3 separate regions of the Homo sapiens genome follow, and all the other regions are reported to be linked to region 2. Evidence: microRNA targets listed by miRTarBase, many of them from high-throughput screens and not tested one by one. Region 2 holds a microRNA gene; each other region holds the end of a gene's coding sequence.

Region 1 (4,241 bases), not on the chromosome of region 2:
GGCCCGATCGCAGCCCTCAGAACCCCCGAATGGAGGCCAAGGCTGGAGGGTGCTAGAAAGATGATCGGCCGGGCACGGAGCGGGGAGCCCGGAGCCGCGCGCGGGGAGGGGAGGTGGAGGAGGGGGCGCCGGGGGAGCGGGGGGCGCGTGAGGGGTGCGAGCGGGGCCCGGGGGGCGCGCGGTGGGTGTGGGGGGCGCCGGGCTCACCTACCTCTCGTCAGCGCCGCCATTGCCGGTCACATGACTGAGGCTGTTGCTGGGATGACGGTCCGGGCCTTAGCAACAAGGAGGGGGAGACCCCGAAAGGTGGGGGATTGCAGGGGGTGCAGGCTGAGGAAAAGGGAAGGAGGGAGGACAGCACCCCCTTTCCCCTCACAGGTGATAATCACCGTTCCTTTGACCCCCTTCTATCCGCAAGCCCCTGCCCTTCCTCCCCAAAACAAAAATGGAGGCGCTGTCCCAGTCTTTGGAGGGAGGGGGTGGCGTCATGGAACTGAGGGTAGGAGGTTAAATCCCTGGAGACGCCACCCTACTCGCTCCCCGCTCCCGGCGGAGCACTCTCCCTTTTCTTTCCCAGCCAGCTGCGTAGCAGCTCCCAGGAGCTGGTGGTGGATGGGTGGGTGAAGTGTTGGTGGGTATATGGGGATTCGGGGGGAGGGCGGCAATTTTTTGAATCCTTATGGTAGAAGGGCCTTTGAGGAACAATGTGGGATGGGAAGAGTCATAGTAAAAAGAAAAGCATTGGCTCTAAAAAATAAACAAATCCGGGTACTAAACTATTTCAATCCCCTCCCTCATCTCCTGCCTCTTTCTAGATTGTTACCTCCTATGACCCCCACAACCTGCTCTCAGATGATCATTGGTCAGTGCCTCTGATTTTTCTTTCCACAAACAGGGATATGGAGGCTGGTGCAGAATGGGAAGCGAATACATTTTTTAAAAAGTGGCTCGAGGTGGTGGTGGTGTCAAGTGTATGGTTCAAATAGAGTTAAAAACTCTCAAAGAAGAAAAAAAAAAAGCTCTGCTCTGCTTCCCACATCAAGCAGTCTCCGCCCAATCCAACTCACTTCCCTGGGGCCACATCAAGCCAGGTTTTTCCACCAGCCAAAAGACTTCCTCAGCCAAGACAGGCAGGAATCTCCCAAACTGGCAACAACCTCTATTCATCCACCCCTTTTTCACTCCCCCCTCTAGACTGGAGGGCTAGTCACTTTCTTCACTTTCCCAGGACCCTGCTGTACTCTTCCTTCCCTCCAGGAAGAGGACAGCTTTCCCAGGAAGCCTGGGGGAATACTAGATTCCTTTTCTTTTAGCTGGTGGGCTGAGAGGCCTACTCACCTTTACAAAGATGGAGTGTTAGCAAGCCCAGAACTCTGGGAAGAGGAAGGGTCCCATCACCCTACTCTTCCCTGGCCCTCACTACCGCTGACCTCCCACAAGGTTAAAGACTAAGTTTTCCATTCCCGTGCACACCCTTCACAGCCTTTTTAAAAAAGTTCACAGCCATCTGTCTAGAAACCCACATCCTTAGTTAGGGGCCCAACACCTTGAACACCAGAATTCTTCAGCTGGTCTCTGCACCCTTAAACACAGGCTCCCTGAGAGAAGTGAAATTTAAAAAAAAAAAAAAAAAGGCATTTCTGTACAGAAATTTGGATTGAATAATTTATTCCCTGTATTATTATAGTAACAGGAGCAAATACATAAATTTTTATTAATAAAACAAAAAAGATGAAAAACAGAAGCAACAAATGAAGACATCCATACTGCCCATAACACATCAGCCATATGATCAGAAAACCCATTTCTAAAGAGCAATGGTTGCTGGTGTCACAGAGTTTTATTGCATTCATCGGGGGAAAGGGAGATGGTTGGAATGAAAAAGATCCATCAGTCTTCTGACAGGAAGATGTTATATGGGGGCTCCAACCCCTAACTGGGTACTCCTCTTGCTACCACCTTTGGAGCAGAAGATGAAGGGGAGAGGGAGCTTCTCCCTATGGCCTCATGGCTTCTTGTGAGACAGATCAGTCCAGCCAGATACAGAGCAAAGCAGCTTTGCATCACCACAGGCCAGTTGCTGATGCCCAGCTTTATGTCTAAAAAAAAAAAAAGTGGAAGCCTCAAGGGGGATGGAGGATAGCAAGAAGAATGGGTGCCTTGGCCCCAGAGGCATTGTAGGGAGAGGAAGACAATGTATCTCATCAGGGTTCTCAACATTATGAGATTATCACACATCAACTATCTTTGGAGGGGCTGAGTGATTGAGTTATGGCTCTGACTCCTCTCTGGGGGTGGAGAGTGAAGATGACAAAGAAGGCCATCTGTCCCCTAGGAGACACAGTTGCAGTATAAGACAGGACAGAAGAGAACAGAAAAACAAATCCAACTGGAAAAAGGGGTGGGAGAAGGAAGTGTGCTAGGTACACACATCCAGGGAGTAGGGGAAGTTCCCACACTTGAGGCCTCCATCCTCTTGAAATGACCAGAATTGATCCAAGTAGAGATATTCCTTTCTTCTGGAAATAAACCTTGGGGATGGCTAGGCAGGATGAAAGGAAACTTTACATGGAGAATGAATCCTACACCCTGGCCCATCATTCCAGCCTCCAAAACTGGCCACACACCCACTGAAGGGTTCCAGTCCCAGGAGAGGTGTGAGGTTCTGGTGAAGAGCAGCAATAGTCAAACATCTTCCCCCAGGCTTGAATGCTTTTGGCCATCTCTGGGTTGCTGTGCCCAGATGTAGAGATGGGTGGAGATGGAATTGAGGTAAGGGAAGAGATTACTCAATCTATGACAGAGACCCAATCCAATTCTCTGCATAATCATGAGTCCTCTTAGGTCCCACCTCTGTGAGGTGCCAGGCTGCTGACCCACTCTCTACCCCACCTGTGTAGGAATGGCCATATTCCATCGTGTGTGTGCATGCCTGCACCCACATCTGTAGTATCTTGAGTGTCATCCATCCTAGGGCCCACCAGGAGGGAAGCATGCCATAGTGAGTTTTATAAAGTTATCAGCAAAATTCAGACACTTTTAGTTCATCCCACACAGCAAAGTGCATCCAGAGTAGTTGCTTGAGCCAGGTCCATCTGTCCAGTCAGGTCCTGAAGAAGGCAAACAACCCCCTTCCCCTAGCTCCTATATCATAGAAACAACAGGAGATATTACAAAGATCAAGGCACTTGGGAGAGAGTCAACAATAACATTCTAATACTACAAGCAGACTTCTCATGGGGAGGAAGAGAGGGAAGAAAAATGGGCAAAGAGGAAAAAGGACAATGTATTTCTGAGGGTCAGAAAGAGCCTACTCGACAGGATGGAGTTATCTGGATGGAAGGAGCCTGCAGCCTGAATTTAGCAAAGGAAGAAGAGAACTGGTGGCTAGAATATCCCCACAATTCCCCCAAGTGTCTCAGAACCCCACCACCTTGAACATCAGAGAGAACCAGGCAGTCTCTTAGGCAAAGATGTTGGTAATAAAATCCAGGAATCGCTTAGCATACTGCTCCGGATGGACAGTAGAGATCTCTGCCCCAGCCTGTGAGAGGAGATACGGAACAATATGTCAGGCCACCCTAGCACCCGTCCCCATCACCCCCACCCAATCTACCCCAGACCACCTCCATTCTTTTGCCACCCCATTGCTCTGGCACAAGAGACTCTATTCCCAAAGAATAGTCAAGACAGGAAAGGAAAGGCTTTTGCGAACTCTCACCCCATGCTTGACAGTTTTGGCTGCATGAGCTGCTTTCTTCTTAGCATCATACTGTGTAAGGATATCAATGAGGCCCATGAAGTAGACCTCCTTCTGGGGGGCTCCTGGGAGAGAGACCAACAATTCAGAGTAGGTTTAGTTCCAATTCCCTTTCTCCAGGAAGCAGTCAGTTTTGTTCTGAAAAGCTAATCAGGCTCTCCCCCAGCACTCTGGTCTCTGTCCTCCAGGAAAAATCCCCTCTCCACCCTTAAATTGTCCCGGTTCTCTCACCTTCAGCACTCCGGATGGCATAGACATCAATGAAGGACTCAAACTCTCCTGGGCCCAGGGGCCGATGGGAATGGATGTAGCCTCCGATACCCTCTGGGGAGGTGCCATAGGAGCCCACCAGAGCAGGAGGTCCAGTCAGGCTGCAGTCCCCATCCACCTCTGACTCATCCTCCCGCACGGGCGCTTCCTCCTCTGGTTCAGAGCCCCGAATGATGTCGTGGATGCCTAGCAGAAGGCTGTAGTCCATGAT
Region 2 (4,241 bases):
GAAGAAGGGTGGGAACTTTCTTCTCAAGTAAGAAGGAAAACACTGGAGAATTCAATAGGTGTCCAAGAGTTTCTGGAAGTTCTACAGGCAAATGTGATCAAAGACCTTCAGGAGAAATGTGTCCCATAAGTGACAGCATCTATTGAACTCTAAAAATGAATGTGTCTGCACCAAGAAAACTAGATGTTCAGCTTCCAGCATGATAAACATTTCATATTTGAGTCACCTCTGCTACGCCTAACAAGCAGAGGCGGACGAGCTGCTGTGCCAAACGCTCCCAGATGCACACTCTCGGCAACTTGTTGCCATGCAGCATTGTATACAGTCACGCACCACGTGACGACGTTGCAGTCAACGACAGAACACACGAACAGAGGATGGTGCCAGAAGATCATGATGGAGCTGAAAAATCCCCATTGCCTAGTGACGTCTTGGGGATCCTGACCCTGTGCAGGCCTAGGCTGATGTATGTGTTTGGCTTGTTTTTAACAAAAAAGTTTTAAAAAATTAAAAACTTACAAAATGGAAAAAAGCTTACAGAATAAGGATAAAAAGAAAAAGTATTTACTTTTGGCTGGGTGTGGAGGCTCATGCCTGTAATCCTGGCACTTTGGGAGGCTGAGGCAGGAGGGTCGCCTGAGCCCAGGAGTTTGAGACCAACCTCGGCAATATAGTGAGACCCCTGCCAAGTAAAAGACAGACAGACAGACAGAAAGAAAGAAAGAAATTTTTGTACAGCTGTACAATATATTTGTGTTTTAAGCTGAGTGTTATTACAAGAGTCAAAAAGGTTTTTAAAATTTAAAAGTTTCTAAGGAAAAGAGCTGCAGTAAGCTCAGGTTAATTTATTTTTGAAGAAAGAACATTTATTTCTATAAATTTAGCATAGCCTACAGGTGCCTGAATAGAAAAAGCTTACAGCAGTGCAAAGTAACGTCCCAGGCCTTCACACTCACCCACTGACGCACCCGGAGCAACTTCCAGTCCTACAAGCTCCACTGATGGTAGATGCCCTATACAGAGGCACCATTTTTCATGTTTTACTCTTTCTATGTACTGTACTTTTTCTATATTTAAGTATTTTTAGATATACAAATATTTACCCCTGTGTTATAGCTGCCTACAGTGTTCAGTACAGAAACATGTTGTACAGGTTTGTAGCCCAGGAGCACGAGGCTACCCCTATACCATACACCCCATTGCTCCCAGGCTACAGACCTGTATACCATGCTACTGTAATGAATCAGCACACACATTTGTGTTCCCAGCAGCTGACAAGATTAATCTTCAGGATGCCAGGAAGGGACTCGGAGAAAGCTACAAGCTGGGGCCCTGGCTTCCCCGGTAAGAAATGTATGTCTGCATAGAGTTCCTCCAGACAGGCCTGCTCCCTGCCTCTGGAAGCCTGGCAGAGAGGAAACGCTTTCCATCCGTATTTCCCACTGGCTGGCATCATGGCGTGAAGAGGGGTGTGTGTGTGTGTGTGTGTGTGTGTGTGTGTGTGTGTGTGTGCGTGTGCGCGCGTGCGCGCACGTGCAAAGAGCTATCAGCTATTTCCAAAGACGACTCAGTAAATAAGAGCTTTTCTGTAAATCTGAGTATCTGAAGGACTTTTGTGGGGAAAGGTGTGAGGACATGTTTTCGTTTGGCATCAGAGTATGTTTGGCAGGGGCAATGGGTAGAAACCACAGGGGCGTAGATTGTTTTAGGTTTAATAGACAGAAAGACATTCTAACAAACTCATCCAATCATCAAATAATGGGCTGCTCTGAAAGTGGCCACGTCCCCACTGTGGGAGGTGATCCGCTTGAGACTGACAGATCTGGGATGCTGCAGGCGGAATCCAACATGAGGCGAGATACCCTCGGTGTCCCTCCCATTCCCAGAATTCTGCGACGATATCAACAGAATCTATAATGGTCTGCTAGAGTTAGGAAAGATAGTTCAATTCACCTTTCTCATTTTACACAGGAGGAAACCAAGGTGGATAGGAAGGGACTGGACCCGAGGCACCTGAGTCTATCTTTCCATCCCCTTATCAAAAAAGAGTCAGTCAGCAGGGGCAGGGAGGTTTGTTCAGCATTTCAGTGAAGAGAAAGGGGTGTTGGGAGATGGGAGGGAGGACAGTGAAGTACAAGTGGCTTCCATTTTCCAGGGCAGATGACACACTGGGCACCTCCACACTTCCCTGGAGAACCCAGGCTGGCTCGGAACACAGTCCCTAGGCCTCAGCACCAGGAGGCTGAGACCCACGGGAATGACACTGTGGCAGAAGTCAGCTGCTTTTGCAGTACATAGCAGGATGGGGTTCCTGTGACTGAAGGGGCAGACACGGAAACTCAGACTGGAAGAGCTTTCTACTGTAGAAAAGAGGTTTTTACTGTGGGAAAGAGATTTTCTACAGTAAATCTTTGCTGTCACCTTAGATGGATAAATGGATGGACGGATGGACAGACGGGGATGGCAGGACGGCAGTCAGGTAGGCAGGCAGGCATTATTCTAGTGCTTCCCTAGGGTAAGAGAAAGGTTCACCCGACTCAGGCTGCAGACATAAAAAAGTGAAACCCATGCCCTCTGATAATGACCAACATTCCCTCTATGGTGTAGAAGCTATGAATGGCCTGGCTGGATACAGTTTCCACTAAAACCTACACCACTGAGATTTCCCAATGATCAGAAGCCCTCAGCAACAGTCTGAGAGCAGCCATGCACGGCTGCCTTTAATTACACACTGATCACAGCATCACCAGGGCCGTCACCATGCTGGGAGGAAAAGCGATAACATCATTTTGCTGGAGAGAGCCCCACACGTCAGAGCAGAAATGCAGCCTTTGCCAAATGTGACTGTGGACAGAGATGAGAGATCCACTCGGACAGCGCTCAAACGCCAACGTAGGACCCTCAGTGCTCCTATAGGTTTGAATGAAAAGACTATCTTTAACATACACCTGTATACTGCAACCCACCCCGGCCCAAAAAAATAAATGGGACTCAGTGACCCAGGCTATAAGGTGGCTGGGTAGGAGACTGCAAAACATCTCAAGAGCTGCTATTTCCTAATTCAGGAAATAGAGGATGTGGTCTAAGAACCATCACTCCAGGACCTCAGGGGCAGAGGGGACAGGCAGGGGACTGAGCCCAGGAACCTGGGTTCTAGTCCTGACCAAGCGGCCCCGGGTGAACGCAACTTACCGAAAACTTAGTGTCTTCTACAAAACAAGGATAAAACCACCTGCGTTCTTATGTCACTGAATTAGTATGAGGAGCAAATTTAAAATATGAATGTAAAACCAATTTGCACACAGTTGAGCACCGTTCAAGCACACAGGACGACAGCACTGCTATAAGCCCTGGCCAGAAGCACACAAGGTGAAGTGGGCAGCTCACAGGACGCAGGGAGCTGCCAGGAAGGCCACTGCATGTCTGTCAAAGGGCATGGAGACTTCAGCCTGGACAAGAAAAATAAATAAATAAATAAAAACAAGCAGAGGTCCAAGGAGATAAATAACTTATTCTTTGTTTTAGACCATTTTTAGAAGTGGCGTCGAAGGGTAAAAACCTTCATCAGAAAGGCCTGGACCCAGAAAACAGGTTCTCAAACTGAGAAATGAGCACAGGATTGAGTGTCTAAAAGGAGATGATTACACTGCAACTCGTTCGAGTCCTAGGAGGCTGTCCACAAGCTTAGGCTTAGCTGCAGGCAGCCAATGGGATCCTTCAATCATACAGGTACAGCCTGCCACAGTGCCCAGGTGCCTCATCAGCTTGCTGTGGGGGCCAGGACAGAGAAGGGGCACTGAAGGGAAGAAAAAAGTGGAGGGAGAAACAAAGTGGGGTGTGACACTTTTCTTCTGGGGCAGGGGAAGGGGTGACATGTAGGGACAGGGGCATTACAAACTGAAGTTTGAGATGCTTTAATAATGGTGCTTCAAAAATCCTTGACCCCATATTGTTGGAAGCTATTTTCAGCTGGCAATTTACAAAACCACACATGGTCAGCTCCAATCTGGCCACAGTTTCTGCACCTTTGCCATTGGGCTTTCGGCACTGGTCTTCTGCACCATGGATAAGAGCACAAAGCCATGTTTTCCCACATGGGTAAAGGGTGGGGTAAGGGTGTGCACCTGCCTGTAACCTCAAAGACCGTGAAGAGAAAGGGGCTAGTGGCAGCTTCATCCAAGGCAGAAGGTGATTCCTTCCTGCACAGCACACTCCCTTTCTAGGCCAGGACAAATTCCTTC
Region 3 (4,240 bases), not on the chromosome of region 2:
TGAGGAGCCTGAGGTCCCTGTGTGAGGATTAGACAGTGGAATGTTATGTGTGTAGGGGAATCAGCTTAATGTGTCTGTCCATGTCTGAATTTATTGCAGAAATTGAAAAGTACCAAGAAGGGGAAGAAGATCAAAAGCCACCATGCCCCAGGTAACTTTCAGCAATTGTGGTCGCTTAATTCTGTGTTAACACCTGGAGACAACAGATCCAGGGAAAACAGTGTGTTTGATTTCATGTTTTCAATGAAGGCTGAATTACTCCTGCTGACATTGCTATTGGTTTTCATTGCAGTAGACGTTTAGGTTTTCATTTCTTCCTCCCCTTATCATTTACTAATGTACCATAGGTTGACCATACCTCAGAAGTTGTACCCTTATGGCGACTGCATGGAATTTTAAGCACACTTGATGGAAAACTATTGAGCTCACTCTTCTCATGATCACTGTTTGCTGTGTGTCCTGAGGGCACTAACTCACAGTGTCCTTTTACTCCCTCATCAATGTGTCACCTGGCCAATTCACTGAGCTCACTTTCTCTCTCTCTCTGTCTCTCTCTCTCACTCTCTGTCTTTCTCTTTCATTGTTTTCTACTTGGCCCTGTTCTATCCCAACATAAAGGCAATAATTTTTTTACCTCATTAATGGAACTATCCTTTTCCTTTTTTGACCACTTCCTTATGTTACCCCTGAAATCTAGTTGGGGCTCTGTGGTGTCTGATTTTCCCTGGCTGCTTCTTTAGTTTTGTCTCCTTTTCCAGGCTCAACGAGGTGCTGATGGAAGCAGAAGAGCCTGAAGTCTTGCAGGACTCACTGGATAGATGTTATTCGACTACTTCAACTTACTTTCAACTACATGCCTCATTCCAGCAGTATAGAAGTGCCTTTTACTCATTTGAGGAACAGGACGTCAGCTTGGCCCTTGACGTGGACAATAGGTTTTTTACTTTGACAGTGATAAGGCACCACCTGGCCTTCCAGATGGGAGTCATATTCCCACACTAAGCAGCCCTTACTAAGCTGAGAGATGTCATTGCTGCAGGCAGGACGTATAGGCACATGTAGGTTTGAATGAAACTGTAGTTCCCTTTGGAAGCCCAGTCATAGGATGGGAAAGTGGGCATGGCTCTATTCCTATTCTCAGACCATGCCAGTGGCCACCTGTGCTCAGTCTGAAGACGTTGGACCCAAGTTAGGTGTGACACGTTCACACGACTATGTAGCACATGCCGGGAGTGATCTGCCAGACATTCTAATTTGAACCAGATATCTCTGGGTAGCTACAAAGTTCCTCAGGGGTTTCATTTTGCAGGCATGTCTCTGAGCTTCTATACCTGCTCAAGGTCAGTGTCATCTTTGTGTTTAGCTCATCCAAAGGTGTTACCCTGGTTTCATTGAACCTAACCCCATTCTTTGTATCTTCAGTGTTGGTTTGTTTTAGCTGATCCATCTGTAACACAGGAGGGATCCTTGGCTGAGGATTGTATTTCAGAACCACTGACTGCTCTTGACAGTTGTTAACCCACTAGGCTCCTTTGAGTAGAGAAGCCATAGTCCTTCAGCCTCCAATTGATATCAATACTTAGGAAGACCACAGCTAGACGGACAAACAGCATTGGGAGGCCTTAGTCCTGCTCCTTTCAATTCCATCCTGTAAAGAACAGGAGTCAGGAGCCGCTGGCAAGAGACAGCATGTCACCTGGGACTCTGCCAGTGCAGAATATGAACAATGCCATGTTCTTGCAGAAAATGCTTAGCCTGAGTTTCATAGGAGGTAATCACCAGACAACTGCAGAATGTAGAACACTGAGCAGGACAACTGACCTGTCTCCTTCACACAGTCCACGTCACCACGAATCACACAACAAAAAGGAGGAGAGATATTTTGGGTTCAGAAGAAGTAAATGATAATGTAGCTACATTTCTTTAGTTATTTTGAACCCCAAATATTTCCTCATCTTTTTGTTGTTGTCATTGATTTTGGTGACATGGACTTGTTTGTAGAGGACAGGTCAGCTGTCTGGCTCAATGGTCTACATTCTGAAGTTGTCTGAAAATGTCTTCATGATTAAATTCAGCCTAAACGTTTCATCAAGAACACTACAGAGTCGATACTGTGAGTTTCCAACCTCAGCCCATCTGTGGGCAGAGAAGGTCTAGTTTGTCCATCAGCATTATCATGATATCAGGACTGGTTACTTGGTTAAGGAGGGGTCTAGGAGATCTGTCCCTTTTAGAGACACCTTACTTATGATGAAGTATTTGGGAGAGTGGTTTTTCAAAGTAGAAATGTCCTGTATTCCAGTGATCATCCTCTAAACGTTTTATCATTTATTAATCATCCCTGCCTGTGTCTATTATTATATTCATATCTCTACGCTGGAAATTTGCTGCCTCAATGTTTACTGTGCCTTTGTTTTTGCTAGTGTGTGTTGTTGAAAAAAAAACATTCTCTGCCTGAGTTTTAATTTTTGTCCAAAGTTATTTTAATCTATACAATTAAAAACTTTTGCCTATCACTCTGGACTGTTGGATTGTTTTTTACATTCAGCGTTATAATCTTTTGTTATGCTGATTGGTTTTGGTGGGTACTGATGCGAATTAATAAAAACATTTTCATTTCCCTGTTTATTTTCTAATCTCTTCCACCTTGTAGGCTATGTTTACCATATGTAGCAGAATGCATGTACTCCATTTCTTGGTTCTAGATATTTATATTCTTTGTGAGAGTGTGTGTGTGTGTGTCTGCGTGTGCCTCTGGCATTTAGGAAGGGTTGTGTAGCTCATGTTTGATATTGACTAAAAATGTTTCATAGTTTTCCCCCCTTTGAACTAGACACACTTCTAATATTTGGTTTATACGTTTTAAATTATGACTTTCAACATCACATATTTCCATATGACAGTCAATTACATGATGTGTTTTCTTTTTCCTACCTCCTTTACCTGCCACTTCTCATAATCGTATTTGAACCTAAACATACACCAGTGACATTCTGTGGTTGTCATCTTGCCCACACCTTGGTTTTTGGTTTAGATCCACAATTAAATATATTAATGCTCATGAGCTGTTCAAAAGTGAATGTCACAGTCATCACTTGCTGAGTGGTACTCATCCTAACAGAGTCCTCATGAGGGAATCAGGTCTCGCTGAGTTTAGCATGTTTAATAATCTTCCTCACGGTCTTGATACATGGATCGCATTACTGGATATAAGGTGTTTGCCCAAAATGATTTTTCTTGTGTTTTTAGGAGCTATTGTCTTCCTTGCGGGACATACATGGTGTATGTTCTCGTTGTGGGATTCTATTTTGTTCTACCAGGACCTATAATTTCTGCCAGTTACTTCATTTGTTCTCTTCACCATGAGTCTCCAGCGGATGCTTCCTTTGTCCATGCCTCCCCATCTCCCAGCAATTCTGCGTTTCCAGGACTGGCACCTCTGGTCCTCTGCATGGTGAAGCCCCTTCCTTTCAATTCCCCAGTAGCCAGTGCTCTAATCCACCAGGTCTCAGGCATGATCTGTGTTTCTCCACATGCTCTTTCTGAGGATAGTTTTACCTGTGTTCTGTCATGAACAGGCCCTCCCTGCTGTCCTGGCCTCGATTTGCTTAGTGTTTCCTGCTCCCTCTGCCCTTGTGTGGCTCCCAGACCAAGTGAAAGAAAATCACCTGAGGGCCACAGTGTTCCCTAGCCCTGGCGTTTAGGGACAGGGTTATGGGTGGGATTTTTGACTCTCTAAGTTAACCCCTAGGGCTTTGAAGTGTCTGTTGAGAAATTCAGCTGTTATCATCCTAGGTGGTCTTGCTCTCTCCTGTCCTCCTACTTCAAATGCAGAACTTCAATCGTGTACAAAAGAAGACCGAGTCATATAACAGAACACACCCTTATTCATTGGCTGGCTTCACCAATCATCTCATGGCTGAACTTTTAAAAATACACTCTTAGCCACATACCTATGAAATGTATATGTGTGTGTATACATATGTGAATTTGCTTCTGAGATTATGGAGGCTGAAATTCCCAAGATGGAAGGAAAGCTGGATGGATACCCAGGAAAGCATTTGTTTCCTATTAGGCCTCTTAATTCTCTCCTGGCCTTTGATTGATTGTATGAGTCCCACCCCCGTTAAGGGGGCAATCTGCTTCACTTAGTCTGCCCATCCCGATCTTAATCACATGCGAAACACTCTCTGGAACATCCAAGAATTTGACATCCAAGAATTTAGCACTAATACAATAA

Evidence for each region. Region 2 holds the annotated microRNA hsa-miR-3137 (UCUGUAGCCUGGGAGCAAUGGGGU, at 1,194-1,217, opposite strand). A microRNA usually pairs through its seed, bases 2 to 8, with sites in the 3' UTR of a target mRNA and lowers its output. Matches are read on the target gene's strand: a 7mer-m8 pairs with bases 2 to 8, a 7mer-A1 pairs with bases 2 to 7 and ends in A, and an 8mer does both.
Region 1: the mRNA of PIP4K2C is a reported target of hsa-miR-3137. Seed matches in the 3' UTR shown: 7mer-A1 at 2,944-2,950.
Region 3: the mRNA of NBPF3 is a reported target of hsa-miR-3137. Seed matches in the 3' UTR shown: 7mer-A1 at 2,098-2,104.

What each region holds. Positions count from the first base shown.
Region 1 is chr12:57,600,829-57,605,069 of GRCh38, reverse strand. It overlaps PIP4K2C (phosphatidylinositol-5-phosphate 4-kinase type 2 gamma), which reads right to left. Exons shown (of 10, transcript NM_024779.5): 8 at 3,992-4,241; 9 at 3,722-3,825; 10 at 1,652-3,544. The coding sequence ends at 3,464. It overlaps DTX3 (deltex E3 ubiquitin ligase 3), which reads right to left and starts at 246. Exons shown (of 7, transcript NM_178502.4): 1 at 212-246. RefSeq lists enhancers at 1-364, 365-876.
Region 2 is chr3:195,133,358-195,137,598 of GRCh38, forward strand. It overlaps MIR3137 (microRNA 3137), which reads right to left and starts at 1,223; the gene lies at 1,149-1,223. All of the region lies in intron 3 of XXYLT1 (xyloside xylosyltransferase 1), which reads right to left. RefSeq lists an enhancer at 72-151.
Region 3 is chr1:21,482,385-21,486,624 of GRCh38, forward strand. NBPF3 (NBPF member 3) reads left to right here. Exons shown (of 15, transcript NM_032264.6): 14 at 100-151; 15 at 759-2,516. The coding sequence ends at 1,002. Among named protein-coding and RNA genes, the nearest start is that of ALPL, 25 kb to the right of the region's middle.